Linked DNA regions of Homo sapiens: region 1 is linked to region 2. Evidence: fine-mapped expression QTL. Tissue or cell type: whole blood. Region 2 holds a variant in brackets; the other region holds the start of a gene. All regions are shown on one strand. Distances are between the middles of the regions.

Region 1 (7,790 bases), 83 kb after region 2:
TCCACCCCTCGCTTGTGTGCTCCGGAAACCCTGTGCTGAGGCAAGGGGGACCACACCCCCAACACCCCTTCTGATTGGACAAGGCCAAGGTCAGCCCCTGCCAGATGGGGCTGGAAACCCTAAAGGGCCAAGGAACTTGGTAAGCTGGGCTCCTCTTTAACCCCTTCTCACCCAGAGCAGTCTGAAAAAGGAAAATAATTTAGAAAGGTGGAACAAAAGGAAGGAAAAAGAAAACCAAAGCAGGAAAGGAAAAAGAAGCTAAGGAAAATATGTTTTTTAAAAAAAGAAGATGAGACCTTAAAGAGAATGAAGATAGGGCAAAATGAAAAGGGAAAGATGTAAAATGGAGGGGGGCGGGCGGGGAAATGGGCGAGGTGAGAAATTAAAAAGCGCAAGAAAACTTCCAGCCATCTTCTAACTTCCAGGTACTCTCATCACCTTGTGATTACAAAATAAGCCTGCTTCTCTGTTACGCAGGCTTCTCAGTACAATGTCTTCCTCTTCACGTTGACCTTCAGTCATCACCTACTGTCTCAATGTACCCCAAACTGCCCCCCTTTAGAAAACCATTGTTTCTCTAAAGCTCGTCCTCATACTCTAAATGTTATCATCTCTCTCTTACTCTCATATACAAACCATATTATCGCTTTCCTTATCACAATCTCTCCACCCTGCTTCCAACCCCAACATGTAAAAACAGGCCTCCCTCCTCAGGCCAGGCATTTCCCACCCCCAAACTCACACCTCTGCCTTGGGCATGCTACCAGGGGAAATACCTGCAGGGACATGCCCAGGCCTCAGATCATGGGTAGGAGAAAAAGAAAGGGAGGAAGATACTCACTGGCATTACTATCAGCCAGGCTGTTGAGGCTACTAGAAATGTCCCTGCGCCGGAAAAGACAGACAACCTTTGCCTCCACATTTCCATTTGCAGTCTAAGGGGAGGAAAAAAACAAAAACAAAACAACGTAGCAGTGGAAATTGATCATCTGGGAACAGAAATGCACAAAGAGACAAATAACAGTAAGTTTCAGAGGGACCTAAATTAAAAAGCCCAAGAAAATATGAGTAAAGACTTACATTCAAGGATAGACTTCCAAATCCCTTTCCTTTGCCCCCAAGAGACAGAATAGTAAAGTTCCTGCTAACCTCTCAATAGCCTTTCCTGAATACATCCAATGAATGAATGAACGAATATGAATGGGTACTTAGTATAGGATCCTCTCTTCCACCAGAAGTTAGAAACCTCAGAAGAGACCACTGCGGGAGGGAGGGAGAGGGATTCTGCTCCACTCACCTTGTTGAGCTCCTCAATCCGTCTAACCAGGTAAGGATTGCTGGAAGAGTTCTCAAAATAGACGTAATCTGTAAGGGAAGGGAGGGGGGAGAACCACGAAGATCAGAGGAGATGGGAGACGCAGAGCACCAGGGTAGGAGAGAAAGTTGGCCTGAGTGGATCAAAAGGAGATAAGGATTCAGGTAGAAAGGGCGCTGAGATGTGAAAGTGGACAGACTAAGAGAAAATAAGGATGTCCCCCATCCCCACCGCACCTAGTTCTAAAATTAGATCCTTTACTCAAAAGAGAGCCTTAAGGAACAGGCAAGAAGCAGGGGTTCCCCTGCAGTCCCCACAACTCAGCGATGAGTTGCACCCCAGTCGCGGCGAAGTAATTGTCCGCTCTAGCGCAGGGCCCCTACCTTTTCGAATCGAGGCGCACAATAACGCCTGGGAAGAGGAAACCTCCGGGCGGCTCCCCCGCGGTGGCAAAGCCGTCGCCCCAGCCCCTCGCGTTCCCTCCCTACCCTGTCAGCTCCTTCGGAACCGGTTCCGAAGGCCACTCCGTGCCCCGGGGAGCCCCTGACGCAGCCCCGAAAGTGCCGTCGGGGCTGCCCGCAGCTTCTCTCTGGGAGTCTCGGAGCCCTGCCGCGTCGCGGTTCCCCGCACCCTCTCTCCTCGTCTCCCGGTTCCGGTTCCGGTCCGCGCTCCGGTCCACGCTGCCCCATACGCTGCGCCTCGCGCCACCCGGTGCCGAGCCCCTCAGGTCCCTACCCCAACCTCTCCCGCCCCGGGCCCCGTATCCCTGCGCCCGGTACTCACCTCCCACCCGGTACATGTTGGCCGCCATGGCCGTTCCCGCCGCCGCCTCCGGCCGCACAAAGGGGTCCGGGAGGCTCGCGGGGGCAGGGCTCGGCTCGAGGCAAAGCCCCGAACGGTGGGCTGCCGCTTCGAGGGAGTCTCACTGGGGCCCGCGCAGCCGGCACCTCCGCTGCCTCAGCCGTCGCGGTTCATCCCGGCCCGCGCTGTCGCCGCCGCAGCTATCGCCTCACTCCCGGGACGCTGAGGCTGGCCCCCGTCCGCTCGGCTTCTTCCGGAACGAGCTCGGCTCCTGCCAGGCCAGAGCCAGGCTCCAGCTACCCCCGCCCCCGCGGAGTCCCACTAGTCGTTGGGCTCTGCCGGCCGCAGGGAAGGCTTGCCGGGCCCGCCTCAGGGTTCGCCTCCTTCCGGAACACCTTCGGCCGATCCGGAGAACAAGGCCCACTGCTCGGCTCAGGTCGGAGAGCGAGACCCCGCAGATCGGCTACTTCCGGAAGAAGTTCGGCTCCTGTCGGGCAACCGCTCGGCTATTTCCGTCGCAGCTCGGCCCCACCCCCTTTTCCGAGGGCGGGAGAGGAGTCGGGCTTAACTCTGTCCTCGCTGGAGCCCTGCAGCTCCTCCTCGCGCCCCAAAGACTCGCGCGCCTTAGCGCTTCGCCAGGTTATTTGCAAGCGGCTTTGCCTGTCATTTGCATAAATGGTCTACGCTCCCTTACCCTTTCCGCACGCCTCTTTTCCTTCGTCCCCACCCCACAGAGCCCCGGAGGCGCCCGGCAGCGCCCCACAAAAGCACCGGGAGGCGACTTTGGTTCTGGTTTATTGCCCCTCAGCAGGCAGCGGGAGTCAAGGCCTAGGCTGGGGCTGCCCGGCTCAGCCAGCGGGTCTAAACAGTGTGTGCAGGGGCGCCGTTCGCGCCCTCCAGGAAAATGCGCGATCGGGAATGTCTCGAAGTCAGTCCAGGAAAGAGTCGGCCCCTAGTCGTGGGGGATTGGGCCAGGGAAGGGCAGGGCGGGGCGGGGCCACGCCGCCGGGCCAGTCGGTCCCGCCAGGCAGCGATCAAACGTCGAGGGAGGAGGCGGGGGACAGGGAGGGGGTTCGAGAGGGCGTGGCGGGCGCCGGCCCCGCGCCCCCAGCGCCCAGCACTCGCCACTGGAAGATGCTGGCGTCCTTGCCGCCCAGCGAGACGAGGTGCGAGTCGTCGTGCGTGAATCGGACGCTGGTCACGTGGCTGCCGTGGCCCCCGTACATGCGGCTCGGCGCCTGGGCCGGAGGGAAGAGTTGCGGTGGCGGCTGAGCCCTCGGGCCCACCGGTCCCACCCCGGCGATCCCCGCGGCCTCACCTTGGCACGAGCGCACGGGTACTGGAAGAGATGCACTTTGCAGAAGTCGTCGGCCACCGCCACCACGCGCTCGTTGTGGGAGCGGCACAGGGAGTTGATGTCGGTCCCATCGGAGCCGTCCGGCCAGACGCCTAGCACAGCGGCCGGCCTCAGCCCGACCTCCTACCCACCGCCACCCACGGCCCAGAGCTACACCATTTCAGGCGCTCCGGCAGCCGCGGCCACCCACTGCCGCGTTCCAGGCAAGCCTTCCCGGTCCCGAGGGGCCTCCTGGGCTGGATCTTCAGGTTTCTGGACTCTCACCCAACGACACACGCCCAGCGTTCCAAGCCCAAACTGGGCTCCACCTTGTCCCCCACCCTTCCAGCAGGTTTCCACGCCCCTGCTCACCGTAGACGTGAAAGCCCAGCACACAGGTGTAGGTAGCCCATTCCCGGTCTCGGCTCTCATAGCGATTCTTCAGCTGCTTGCAGCCTCCAGCCACGTCCCCTGGGGAGAGGGAGCCCGCCCAGCTCAGCTCTCACCCTGCCCTCAGTAGGGAAGATGCCAGGGAAAGCCAGACTGGAAAGACTGGCATGAAACCCGGCGATGGCATGTGATCTGGTCACCGTAGTAGCATCACCTCCTCCCCCTGTGAAACCCACCCTGTGTGCGTCCTGTCCTGAGCTCTGGCTGAAGTTCTAACAGCTTCCACGAGTTCCTCCTCCCTAGATAAGTCAAGTGCTCCACACTTGCCCTGAGAAACTTTTCCCAAACAATCTTTTCTTAGCGCATTTTTGAACTCCCTCAAGTCAACAAGACATGGTGTGAAACTAGTTGTTTCCAAATCACGAAATTTCTCCTACATATAATTCCAACTCCACTTTAACCCCATCTCCACTTCCTTATCTAACAACACCTCTAACAGCCCCCCCTACACAAAACCCACTCCAATTACCCTCTCCCCATGTCCTGCTCCACTGCCACTCACAGTAAAGAATCTCATAGTCCCCAGAATTGGACATGATGAAATTCCCATCCTTGGACCAGTCAAGATGAGTGATGAAGCTGGAGTGACCCTGGGAGCAAAGGTCAAGAGTTTTAAAGTATCCCATCCATTTCCCATCCCCAGAGCCCCCTTGATGCATCAGACCCCTGAGTTTCGCAGCTGTTATCATGCCCCACCACACACCCCAACTTCCTCACCATACAGCGGCCAAAGCGGCTGGATTTGGCACCATCACTGGAAACACTATAGATGTAGATCACGTTGTCATGGGAACCAATGGCCAGGTACAACCCATCTGCAAATACAGTCACTCAGAGAGGGAAGGGCCAGGGACGCATGTGAGTCCAGGGTTGGGGTGGCTCCCACCTGGGCTGTACCGGACCACTGAGAGCTGCTCATTGCCATCAATGACATCAGACACGATCTCTCTGGTCTCTGTGTCCAAAACCAACCACCTGGAAGGGAGGGAAGTGGAGGCAGATAGGAAGACGAAAAGGCAGGATGTAAGGAGACCCCCAGGGAGGCCACCCTGGGTAGGCTTGGGGATGGCAAATAAGAGAAGCTCAGAGACACACACAGAAAGGCTCTGATGTAGAAGACAGGTCACAACTGCATTCTTCTTTTTTAGTTTGTTGTTGTTGTTGTTGTTGTTTTGAGACAGAGTCTCACTCTGTCACCCAGGCTGGAGTGCAGTGGCAAGATCTCAACGCAACCTCCACCTCCTGGGTTCAAGTGATTCTCATGCCTCAGCCTCCTGAGTAGCTAGAATTACAGGTGCGTACCACCATGCCCGTCTAATTTTTGTATTTTTAGTGGAGACGAGGTTTCACCATGTTGGCCAGGCTGGTCTTGAACTCCTGACCTCAAGTGATCCACCCGCCTCAGCTCCCAAAGCGCTAGGATTACAGGCGTGAGCCACCGCACCTGGCCACCACTGCATTCTTATGCTGAGAAATGGGAAGGAGCTAAGTGTGGATAAAGGCTGAGGGGCTTCTGATGTCGTCTGAAAAAGTAATCTGAAACTACAGACCAGGGGCCGACTACAAAGGCACTGTGCAAGCTGGAAGCCTGTCACTTCCCTGTGTTTGTCTATGCCCCTCCCATTCCCACTGTTTCTCTATCCTGGGCTGCTGCCTCCTCCACTCCCAGGCTTGGAGGAGACACTGGGTTGGGGGAGGGGGAGAAACAGTTACCACAGAAGAGGAGGGGAGCCCGGGTGGCAGGGGCTGCAGGGAGAGGCACAGAGGAGTGCCAAGGCGCAGGTGGCTCCTGGGTAGAGGTGGTCACTCTCGCCCACTCCCCCAGTACCAGGAACCCTTCCCAGTCCTCCCTGCTTTCCCTCCTGGGAGTCCTGGCTCTCTCTCACCTCCCCGTGTTCAGTCCTACGGCCACAACTGCCCCACTCGGGTGGAAGTCAGCACAGAGACCAGTCTCCTGGGAGAGGGGAGAAGGTGAATTCAAGATGATGTCTTTCTAGTGAGGGAACCAGAGTGAACCCCTTGTCCTCCTAACTTCAAAGCCACTTACTCCCAAGGAGAAGATGGGAAGAGAGGGAAGGGATACCCGGGTATCACTGGAGCCTGAACAGGGAGTGATACCAAAATATTTAACCACAGAACTGATGCCAATAGCTGTGCTGGAGATTAACCATTTAGGTGCTGGATCAAGAGGAAGTCTGAGGGGTTCTGGGGGCGGCAGGGAGTGCCCAGGTGGTACTAGAAGCATCAGCTTTTACCAGTCAGTACAGAAAAATTAATATTTGAGTAGCCAGTGCAGCCATACCAGTACAAACTGGCCACCTCTGGGAGGCAGAAGGCAAGGTGCTGGGGAAGGCGTGGTGGCCACAGGTGTCCTGGTGGGTGTGGCATGGGGGATCCAGGGGCACAGGGCTCTACCTTGAGGTCGATGCTCCAGGCCAGTGCATGGCTCTCCCCATCCCACAGGCAGAGCTGCCGGTCGTGGCCGCAGGTGAGGAAGCGGTTCTGGGAGGGGTGTGTGCAGAGCCCCCAGAGCTCATCAGTGTGGCCCTGCAGCACAGCATGACTGTCACTCCTGCCCCTCTCTCACACCCCTTTGTCCCTTCCTCCCCTGAGCCCTTAACCCCCAACCTGGATTACAGGGGAGAAGCCCTGGGCCAGGTCTCCCCTCAGCAATGCATTCTTCGTGGTTCCCACCAGCAGCTCAGAGCCAAGCCCTTCAGCAATGGCTCGCACGGCCCCGAAGTGCTCGGGAATCTGCAGAGTGGTAGCAGAATGTCAAGAGCCCACTGACTATTGCTCTTCTCCCTCACTCCCTTGACCCCAGCCCAGCCCTCACCTCAGCCTCCTGGAGGGCCACCAACCCGGGCCCCCACTGTACCAGCCGGCGGTCCCGCCCGCCACCACTCAGCACTGTCCCGTCCCTCCGGAGACACAAGGCGAAGATAGAACCTTCATGAGCGTGAGCCTGGGCCACAATCCCATAGGTCTCTGTTGGCAAAGCCCCAGGTAGATCATGTTTTGGGGGTGCAGGGGAGTGAGAAACAGGGCCAGCTTGGCTGTCGCAATACAGTAAGAACTCCCAGCCATTGCATGCACTGACTACTATGTCTCATCCTCATACTGCCAACACATCTGTTATTCTCCCCATTTTACAAACAGGACAACTGAGACTCACAGAAATGAGGTAACTTCCTAAAGGCAAGGCAACTAATAGCAAAACTGGAATCTGAACCTGAGATCTGGCAAACACAAAGCTCCAGCCGTTTCTCCTTTGCTGTGCTGCCCACACGCTTCTAGACTAGCCCCCAAGAGAACTATCAACTCTCAAGGTAAAAAGGTGGGAAACCTGGCTGGGCGCCGTGGCTCACGCCTGTAATCCCAGCACTTTGGGAGGCCAAGGCGGGCGGATCACCTGAGGTCAGGAATTCGAGACCAGCCTGGCCAACATGGCAAAACCCCATCTCTACTAAAAATACAAAAATTAGCTGGGCGTGGTGGCGTGTGCCTGTACTTCCAGCTACTTGGGAGACTGAGGAAGGAGGATCACTTGAACCTGGAAGGCAGAGGTTGCAGTGAACCAAGATCGCGCCACTGCAATCCAGCCTGGGCAACAGAGTAAGACCTCATCTCAAAAAAAAAAAAAAAAAAGATGGGAATGGGAAACCCTCTCCTCTGTTCCCACAGAACCTCTGGAGTACTACACTTCCCAGATGCCCCTCCCAGCCACATACCTTTGGCGCCACCCCTGCCTGGGGTCTTGGAATCTGAAGGGCTCCGCCCCCAGGTGAGAATGTTCCCCTCTGAGTCTCCAGTGAGAATGTCTCCATCCGGAAGGAACACAAAGCAAGGGATAAACTTGGGTTTCTTGTATTTCTAGTGGGAGGGGAG
Region 2 (10,374 bases):
TTTTCCATAATGTTTAGCCCTAAAATGGACTAGAAAGAACCACAGAGATAACTTACACAAGATCAGCACCCTGGCCGGGCGCAGTGGCTCATGCCTGTAATCCCAGTACTTTGGGAGGCCAAGGCGGGTGGATCACTGGAGGTCAGGAGTTTGAGACCAGCCTGGCCAACATGGTGAAACTTCGTCTCTACTAAATATAAAAATTAGCCAGGCGTAGAGGCAAGGGCCTGTAATCCCAGCTACTCGGGAGGCTGAGGCAGGAAAATCGCTTGAACCCAGGAGGAGGAGGTTGCAGTGAGCCAAGATTGTGCCACTGCACTCCAGCCTGGGCAACAGCGGTTACTCAGCAAACCTGCAGCCATGTCAGGAATAAATGGCAGAGCGGTGATTCACAAGCAGAGCCCTTTCGGTAATTCCAGGAGGCCTTTTAACTGTTCACATCTGTAACCCATTTAGAACCAATTCTGAATTGTATATTCATATGTGAGGATGCAAAGTAGGTGAGTGGGTCCCGAGGCCAAGCCTCTTCTTGATTTCTCAGCAATGGCACAACCAGCCTCACCATGAGAATCAAGAAGCAAAGATTTTCTCCCACTACCTCCCGAAGGTCACTGTCTTAAAGTCACTGATGAAACTAGCAATGCCACCAGATGGATCCGGTCTGAACACTCACAGCTGGCTGTGCAGCTTCCCCAGGTTTCACGCCCCCGCAACACAGAATGCAAAGGCACAAGACATCAAGGTTAATAAACAGCTTTATTTGCCTTGTACAGCATCAATTTTCTTACATTCTCAGTTAATTGGCCATTAAAGTGCTGGAAATTTTCTTAATCATGATAACATTTGTTAAAAAGAAATCAGAACTAATATCAGGAACATGGCGGCATGAAGGAAACAGTTCCCTTACAAAACACAGAAAATGGAAGCCCCTCATGTTGAGGGGGTGGGTTGGACAATTTGCAAACAGATTCTAATTTCCTCTCACCGTCAGCACCAAACTGGCTGGGACCACCACCCCTGGGTGAAAGAAACAACACTAAAGAACCCTAAAAACACCCACACACCCTGACTACCACCACCTCTGGGCCATCTGTGGGCGTTTGCTGTTTGAACAGATCCAGTCTCAGGAAAGAGGAAGACCTGACCTCCGTCTGCAACCCATCACCCCACCCACCCTTACTAACAAAAGCCCCCAAAGTCATTACAATGAAAAAGTGGGTTTCCATTACCCCAAAACTAACAATGTTCAGTAAAAATGAGGATAATAAACACAAAAGCTTGCTTAGTAAACAGGAGCTCTCAGCAGTCAATGCAAAAAAATATATATATATGAAATCTTAAGGCAAATACTGTTGACTTTGCACATGGGCTGGACGAACTTGGAACTCTTTACCTATCTGTATAGTTCCAGGAGCCTACAGGCGGTCGGTTTTTCAGCGCTTGCCACCGGGCCAGGCAAGGTCTTTGCATGATTGCTGAGGCAGTCGGTGTGTTTCCCTTTGGAGTTTATATAGGAACACACCACCCAAGGCTGATGTTTTGTTATATATATATATATGTACACACATACAAAGGCCTGCTACTCTTTCTTTGTGGAAACTGACAGCTCCACCTCGGGAAGCTGGATGCCAACCTTATTCCCACTGTCATTGCTAGAAGAGGAGGACAGTCGGGACTTCTTAGAGGCCAGGGACACCCCACTCCCCTGTAACTTGCCTGTCTCATCATCGCTCCCAGTCACCTCATAATGACCTTTGCTCTTTGACCCCAATCCACCAAAGGTACCGAATTTCAGCTTCCCGTGTTTCCCTTTAACTTTCCCACCTTCCAGAGACACTTCCCCACCTTCAAACTCCAGCGTCCCCGTCGGGGTGGAAGGTCCAGAGAACTCTCTTTCATCACTGAATGAATTTGAGCGGTGCCGTGGCTTCTTACTTTTAAATAAGGAGAATTTGCCTTTCGGTGAAGAGGCTTCGGCCTCTGCCTCTCCTTCCAGAGAGCCCAGGCTGGCCTTTGAACTTTTCAGGTCACCTTTGGACCCAGAAATTGATGCTTCTGGTGAGCCAGTGACACCACCTTTCCCTTTAGGTTTGGAAAAATTAAACTTGGGCATTTTGATCTTGGACTTTTTCAGTTTGACTTCAGACTCTTCCCACTCGCCGTCTCCAGCACCAGCTTGGATGCTGGCCTCTGCTTTAGGGAAGTGAACATCCACCCCCATTTCTCTGCCAACCAGCTCACGGCCAGAGAAGGTAAATTTGGGGATCTTCATTTTAGGGAATGTTACTTTTCCAGATCCACTTTCCAAGTGACCTTGAGGCCCAGACACACTCAGCCCAGGAGCCTGGAGTCCAATCTGACCTCCTTTCACACCTCCTTCCACCTTTGGTCCTGAGAAATGAAGGCCCCCAGCAAACTTAGATGTGTCCAAGTTGAGAGCAGAGGAGACTTGGGGTCCCTTCCACTCACCCCCGGAACCTTTAACACTCAAATGCCCTTCACCAAGGCTGATGTCTGGGGCACTGACACCCCCTGAAACATCCGCACCTCCTTTGATTTTTGGGCCCTTCAAGTTGATGCCAAAATCTGACTCAGGAGATGCCATATTAAAGGCAGGCCCCTTCACACTGATATCAGGAGCAGCCCCATGGAAACCTACTTCTGAACCTTTCAGACCACCTTTGATTTCAGGCCCAGAAATCTGCCCAGTTGGGAGTTTCACATTCACGCCTGGCAGGTTCACATCACATCCAGAGGACTTAATTCCAGGCATCTGGAGGTTTCCTTCTAGGCCTTGAACACCAATGCCTGGAAGACCTCCTCCGACAGTGGGGCCTTTGATCTCACCAGTGGCCCCAAGGCTCCCTTTCACTTTTGGTCCTTCCAAGTTAAAGTCCACATTCGGTGCTGAAATCCGAGGCCCTTTCAGGTTCACATCCACACCTGGCCCCTTCAGTTCGCCAGAAACCTGTGGCCCCTTGGCATTGACGTGCAAGTCGGACCCCGGAGTAGAGATGCCAAATTGGGGCAGCTTCATTTTGGGAAGTTTAATGCTGCCTTCGGATGCCTCCAAGCTTAGATCAGGAGCTCCTACGGATACTTTAGGGCATTTGATGTCACCAGAGACAGCCAGATCTCCCTGCAGGCTTGGTCCCCTCAGTGTCACATCTGGTGCCCCAACGTTAAGCTTTGTTGTGGCATCGATCCCTGGCACTTTCACACCGTCTCCTCCCACCTGCATTTTGCCACCGACACCACTGAGGTTGAGCCCTGGAGCATGCACCTTCATGCTGGGAACAGATGCATCCAGGTCTCCCTTCAAACTTGGTCCTTTCAAGTTCAGATCAAGGTCAGGCCCAGAGACTTTTGGCATAGAGAGGTTCACTGAAGGCAAGTCTACTCCTGGCCCCTTTAGAGAAACATCGGGCCCTTCGAGCTTAACATCTGGTCCTCTCAAGTCTCCTTCAAGAGAGGGTAGCTGGGCATGGACCTCGGCTCCCCCACCCTCCATTTTCACACCTGGGATGCCGATCTTGGGCATGGAAAACTTGGGGAACTTAATTTTTGCTTCTGGACCTTGCAGATCTACATCTGGTCCTTCCAGTCCCACGCTGGGGACATCACCCTTTATCTTTGGTCCTTTCAAGTTTACATTCACATCAGGGATGGAGACTTGAGGGGCAGAAATGCCGAAGGACGGTGTTTTGACTTTAGCATCTAGGCCTTCGATGTTGATGTCAGGTGCACCCAAGTTTGCCTGCACTTTGGGGCCTTTCAGGTCACCCTCTATTTTTGGCACTGAGATGTCCACATCTGGCATCTTGACCTTGGGAGCCTTCGCCTTGATGTCAAGACCTTCGACGTGAATCGCTGGCAAAGAAAGTTCCAGATCAGGTGCCTGGAGTTCACCCTCCAGTTTGGGGCTAGGGAGAGGGGCCTCAGCTTTAAATTTAGGTGATTTAATGTCAAACTCTACATCTGGGAAGTACATTTTTCCAAACATCGTTTTCTTGGTTTTGGGCGATTTCACGTCGACTTTGAGTGCAGCATCCGGCCCTGCGATGTTGACATCTACATCCGGAGCCTTGAGGCTGGCATCAATTTCACCCCCAGGAACATTCAGGTCAAATCCCTGTTTTTTGGCCTTAATCTTAGGACCACTCATATGAATTTTAGGCATTTTAAACTTACTTTTCTTGCCCTTGCCACCAACACTAATTTCAGGAGTCTCAAGGTTCAGCTCTGCCTCAGGAACAGTGACATCCAGTGAAGGTGACTTGATGTCAGCTTTGGGGCTTTTTGCCCCAAATCCAAACTTGGGTTTCTTAAATTTGGGGATTTTAACATCTGGCCCTTCGATGTTAATATCTGGGCTGTCCATGTGTACATCTAAGCTTGGAGCTTCAACTTTGGGTCCCTTGAGGTCCACTTCACCACCTTCTAACTTCGGACCTGAAAATCCAATTTTTGGTGCCTTGAGATGCAAATCAACATCAGGAGCAGTTACTTTAGGAGCAGATATCTCCAGCGATGGCATCTTCAAAGATGGGCCACTGAGTTTGGCATCAGGGCCTTCGAAATCCAGACGTGGACCTTTAAGATCTACTTCTGGGCCTTTCAAAGTCCCTTCAACCTTAGGGACAGACACATCAAAATCTCCTTTTACTTTGGGTCCTTTCAAATCCAGGTCAACATCAGGTATGGAGATCTTGGGAGCTTTGATATTTATTTCAGGCATCTTGAACTTGGGGCCCTTCAGTTTTGCGTCTGGACCTTCGATATTCACATCTGGAATATCAACGTCCACCTTGGGTCCCGAGACATCGATGTCGGCCTTGGGCAGGCTCACATCCACATCTGGACCTTCTCCTTTGAAGCCAGGCATGCTGAATTTGGGCATTTTCACCTTGGGCATCTTCAGGTGCCAGTCTGGGCCATGAACATCCACATCAGGGGTGTTGATGTCCACTTTTGGGCCCTTGATGTCAGCTTCTGGGCCCTTGAGGTCACCTTCCACTTTAGGAAGGGTAACATCCACATCGCCCTTCACTTTGGGTCCTTTCAGGTTTAAGTCAATATCAGGCATGGAGATCTTGGGGGCTTTGATGCTCATCTCAGGCATCTTGAACTTGGGGCCCTTTAGTTTCGCATCTGGACCTTCGATATTCACATCAGGAACATCAACGTCCACTTTGGGTCCTGAGACATCAATGTCAGCCTTGGGCAGGTTCACATCCACATCTGGGCCCTCTCCTTTGAAGCCAGGCATGCTGAACTTGGGCATTTTCACTTTGGGCATTTTTAGGTGCCAGTCTGGGCCTTGAACGTCCACATCTGGGACATCAATGTCCACTTTGGGGTCCCTGATGTCAACTTCGGGGCCCTTGAGGTCGCCTTCCACTTTGGGCAGAGAAATGTCCATGTCGCCCTTCACCTTTGGACCTTTCAGATTCAGGTCAACTTCAGGCATAGAGATCTTCGGTGCCTTGAGGTGTAAGTCAGGCATTTTAAATTTGGGGCCCTTCAGTTTCCCTTCTGGACCATGAATGTCAATATCAGGAGTGTCAATGCCCACTTTAGGGCCTTTGACATCCACTTTGGGACCTTTCAGATCTCCCTCCAGTTTAGGAACGGAAATGTCCATATCTCCTTTTATCTTAGGTCCTTTCAAATTCAAATCAATGTCACTCATGGAGATTTGTGGGCTTTTGAAATGTACATCAGGCATCTTAAACTTGGGACCTTTGAGCTTCCCTTCAGGACCTTCAATGTCTACCTCTGGCCCTTTCAGATCACTTTCCACCTTAGGTAGTGAAACATCCACATCACCCTTCACCTTGGGACCTTTCAGGTGCAAATCAAAGTCAGGCATAGAGATTTTGGGAGCTTTGATGTTCATCTCAGGCATCTTAAATTTGGGCCCCTTCAATTTTCCTTCCGGACCTTCAATATTGACATCAGGTGTGTCAATGTCCAAACTGGGGCCTTTTATGTCAATTTCAGGGCCCTTGAGATCACCTTCCACTTTGGGCAGAGAGACATCCACATCACCTTTCACTTTGGGACCCTTCAAGTTAAAGTCAATGTCAGGCATGGAGATTTTGGGGGCCTTGATGTTCATCTCTGGCATCTTGAACTTTGGACCCTTGAGTTTTGCATCTGGACCTTCGATACTGACATCAGGGGCATCAATGTCCACTTTGGGGCCAGAAATCTCAATGTCAGCCTTAGGAAGGGTAACATCCACATCTGGGCCCTCTCCTTTGAATCCTGGCATGCTGAATTTGGGCATTTTCACCTTGGGCATCTTCAGGTGCCAGTCTGGGCCATGAACATCTACATCAGGGGCATCGATGTCCACTTTGGGGCCCTTGATGTCAACTTCTGGGCCCTTGAGGTCACCTTCCACTTTAGGAAGGGAAACATCCACATCACCCTTCACCTTGGGACCTTTCAGATGCAAATCAAAGTCAGGCATGGAGATCTTGGGGGCTTTGATGTTCATCTCAGGCATCTTGAATTTAGGGCCCTTTAGTTTCGCATCTGGACCTTCGATATTCACATCAGGAACATCAATGTCCACCTTGGGTCCTGAGACGTCAAGGTCAGCCTTGGGCAGGTTCACATCCACATCTGGGCCCTCTCCTTTGAAGCCAGGCATGCTGAACTTGGGCATTTTCACTTTGGGCATTTTTAAGTGCCAGTCTGGGCCTTGAACGTCCACATCTGGGACATCAATGTCCACTTTGGGGCCCTTGATGTCAACTTCAGGGCCCTTGAGGTCGCCTTCCACTTTGGGCAGAGAAACGTCCACGTCGCCCTTCATCTTTGGACCTTTCAGATTCAGGTCAACTTCAGGCATAGAGATCTTCGGTGCCTTGAGGTGCAGGTCAGGCATTTTAAATTTGGGGCCCTTCAGTTTCCCTTCTGGACCATGAATATCAATATCAGGAGTGTCAATGTCCACTTTGGGTCCTGAGACATCAATGTCAGCTTTGGGCAAATTAACATCCACTTCTGGGCCCTCTCCTTTAAATCCTGGCATGCTGAATTTGGGCATTTTCACCTTGGGCATCTTCAGGTGCCAGTCTGGGCCATGAACATCCACATCTGGGGCATCAATGTCCACTTTGGGGCCCTTGATGTCAACTTCAGGGGCCTTTAGATCACCTTCCATCTTAGGCAGAGAAACATCCACATCTCCTTTCACCTTAGGGCCTTTCAGATGCAAATCAAAGTCAGGCATGGAGATCTTGGGGGCTTTGATGTTCATCTCTGGCATCTTGAATTTAGGGCCCTTCAGTTTCGCATCTGGACCTTCAATATTCACATCTGGAACATCAACGTCCACCTTGGGTCCTGAGACGTCAAGGTCAGCCTTGGGCAGGTTCACATCCACTTCTGGACCTTCTCCTTTGAAGCCAGGCATGCTGATCTTGGGCATTTTTATCTTAGGCATCTTCAGGTGCCAGTCTGGGCCTCGAACATCCACATCTGGGGCATTAATATCCACTTTGGGGCCTTTAATATCCAAGTCAGGAACTTGCATGTCACCTTCCACTTTTGGCAGAGACACATCCATATCACCCTTCACTTTGGGTCCTTTCAGGTTAAGATCAATGTCAGGCATGGAGATCTTGGGGGCTTTGATGTTCATCTCAGGCATCTTGAATTTGGGACCTTTCAACTTTCCCTCTGGGCCTTCGATATTCACATCTGGAACATCAATGTCCACCTTGGGTCCTGAGACATCAAGGTCAGCCTTGGGCAGGTTCACATCCACATCTGGGCCCTCTCCTTTGAAGCCAGGCATGCTGAACTTGGGCATTTTCACCTTGGGCATCTTCAGGTGCCAGTCTGGGCCTTGAACATCAACATCTGGAGCATTAATGTCCACTTTGGGGCCCTTGATGTCAACTTCAGGACCCTTGAGGTCACCTTCCATTTTGGGCAGAGAAACATCCACATCGCCCTTGACTTTGGGGCCCTTCAGGTTTAAATCAATGTCAGGCATCGATATTTTGGGAGCCTTCAGGTGCATCTCTGGTATCTTAAATTTGGGTCCCTTGAATTTACCCTCTGAGCCTTCGATGTTAATGTCAGGAGTGTCAATGTCCACTTTGGGGCCCTTGATGTCCACCTCAGGGCCTTTTAGATCACCTTCCACTTTGGGCAAAGACACAACCACATCACCCTTCATTTTGGGTCCCTTCAAGTTCAGGTCAAAGTCAGGCATGGA[G/A]ATCTTGGGGGCTTTGATGTTCATCTCAGGCATCTTGAACTTGGGGCCCTTCAGCTTTGCATCTGGACCTTCAATATTCACGTCTGGAACATCAACGTCTACATTGGGACCAGAAATGTCAATGTCAGCTTTAGGGAGGGTAACATCGACTTCAGGGCCTTCTCCTTTGAAGCCAGGCATGCTGAACTTGGGCATTTTCACTTTGGGCATCTTCAGATGCCAGTCTGGACCATGAACATCCACATCTGGGGCATTGATGTCCACTTTAGGGCCTTTGATATCAACCTCTGGCCCTTTCAGATCCCCTTCAAGTTTGGGAAGAGAAATATCCACATCACCTTTCACCTTGGGGCCTTTCAAGTTTAAGTCAATGTCAGGCATGGAGATCTTGGGAGCTTTGATATTCATGTCAGGCATCTTGAATTTGGGACCTTTCAAGCCTCCCTCCGGACCTTCCACATTGAGATCTGGGCCCTCAATGTTCATACTTGGGCCCTCTATGTTGATGTCTCCTTTTGGTAGATCCACAGCTACATCTGGCCCTTCTGCTTTTAAGCCAGACACACTGAATTTGGGCATTTTCATCTTGGGCATTTTCAGATTCCAGTCTGGACCATGAACATCCACATCAGGTGCATTAAGATTGACTTCTGGTGCCTTAATATCCACTTTGGGGCCTTTAAAGTCACCTTCTAAATTGGGACCTGCAATATCTAAGTCTCCTTTGACTTTGGGACTTTTCAAATTTAGCTCCACGTCAGGCATAGAAACTTTGGGAGATGAAATACTCAGGAAAGGCATTTTAAACTTGGATCCTTTCACTTTTCCTTGGACCTCGACATCAGGAGCATTAATATCAACTTTTGGACCTGTTATGTCAATATCTGGCTTTTTACCTTTGACATCCACTTCAGGTGTCTGAACTTTAGAGCCCGAAAAATTAAATTTGGGAAGCTTAAAACGAGATTTCTTTGACTTGCCTTCGATATTAAGCTTAGGACCGGAAACGTCCACTTCTGGGCCCTTTATATCCAAACTGGGAGCTTTAATGTCACCTTCCAACTTGGGCCCAGAGACATCAACATCTCCCTTAAGCTTTGAGCCTTTCAAATTCAAGTCAATTTCTGGCATGGAGATCTTGGGCATGTTTACATGCATGTCAGGCATCTTCAGTTTTGGACCTTTTAATTTGGCATCTGGGCCATGAATGTCAATATCTGGAGCATCTACATCTATCTTTGGGCCTTTTATGTCAAGAGCAGGTCCTTTCAAATCACCTTCTACATTTGCAAGTGAAACATCCACCTCTCCTTTCATTTTAGGGCCTTTAAGATTGAGGTCCAAATCAGGCATTGATATTTTAGGAGCTTTGATGTTCATCTCTGGCATCTTGAATTTAGGGCCCTTCAGTTTCGCATCTGGACCTTCAATATTCACATCTGGAACATCAACGTCCACCTTGGGTCCTGAGACGTCAAGGTCAGCCTTGGGCAGGTTCACGTCCACTTCTGGACCTTCTCCTTTGAAGCCAGGCATGCTGATCTTGGGCATTTTTATTTTAGGCATCTTCAGGTGCCAGTCTGGGCCTTGAACATCCACATCTGGGGCATTAATATCCACTTTGGGGCCTTTAATATCCACGTCAGGAACTTTCATGTCACCTTCCACTTTTGGCAGAGACACATCCATGTCACCCTTCACTTTGGGACCTTTCAGGTTAAGATCAATGTCAGGCATGGAGATCTTGGGGGCTTTGATGTTCATCTCAGGCATTTTGAATTTGGGACCTTTCAACTTTCCCTCTGGGCCTTCGATATTCACATCTGGAACATCAATGTCCACCTTGGGTCCTGAGACATCAAGGTCAGCCTTGGGCAGGTTCACATCCACATCTGGGCCCTCTCCTTTGAAGCCAGGCATGCTGAATTTGGGCATTTTCACTTTGGGCATTTTTAGGTGCCAGTCTGGGCCTTGAACGCCCACATCCGGGACATCAATGTCCACTTGGGGACCCCTGATGTCAACTTCAGGGCCCTTGAGGTCACCTTCCACTTTGGGCAGAGAAATATCCACATCGCCCTTCACCTTGGGACCTTTCAGATGCAAATCAAAGTCAGGCATGGGGATCTTGGGGG

The links. PIP is the estimated chance that this variant, and not a neighbour inherited with it, causes the effect.
Region 1: MTA2 starts here. The variant in region 2 is the best candidate, but not a certain one, in a credible set for the expression of MTA2 in whole blood (TOPMed, PIP 0.77).

What each region holds. Positions count from the first base shown.
Region 1 is chr11:62,599,325-62,607,114 of GRCh38, forward strand. It overlaps MTA2 (metastasis associated 1 family member 2), which reads right to left and starts at 2,541. Exons shown (of 18, transcript NM_004739.4): 1 at 2,099-2,541; 2 at 1,298-1,365; 3 at 842-935. The coding sequence starts at 2,126. EML3 (EMAP like 3) reads right to left here. Exons shown (of 22, transcript NM_153265.3): 12 at 7,634-7,775; 13 at 6,739-6,890; 14 at 6,531-6,656; 15 at 6,318-6,449; 16 at 5,789-5,856; 17 at 4,789-4,877; 18 at 4,620-4,717; 19 at 4,405-4,492; 20 at 3,825-3,923; 21 at 3,435-3,565; 22 at 2,894-3,354. The coding sequence ends at 3,151. RefSeq lists enhancers at 1,412-2,122, 1,557-1,606, 2,987-3,036, 3,545-4,254 and silencers at 1,857-1,936, 2,017-2,116, 2,187-2,236.
Region 2 is chr11:62,515,165-62,525,538 of GRCh38, forward strand. AHNAK (AHNAK nucleoprotein) reads right to left here. Exons shown (of 5, transcript NM_001620.3): 5 at 738-10,374. The coding sequence ends at 1,580. Among named protein-coding and RNA genes, the nearest start is that of AHNAK, 26 kb to the right of the region's middle. The variant G/A (reference allele first, on the strand shown) is at 8,240.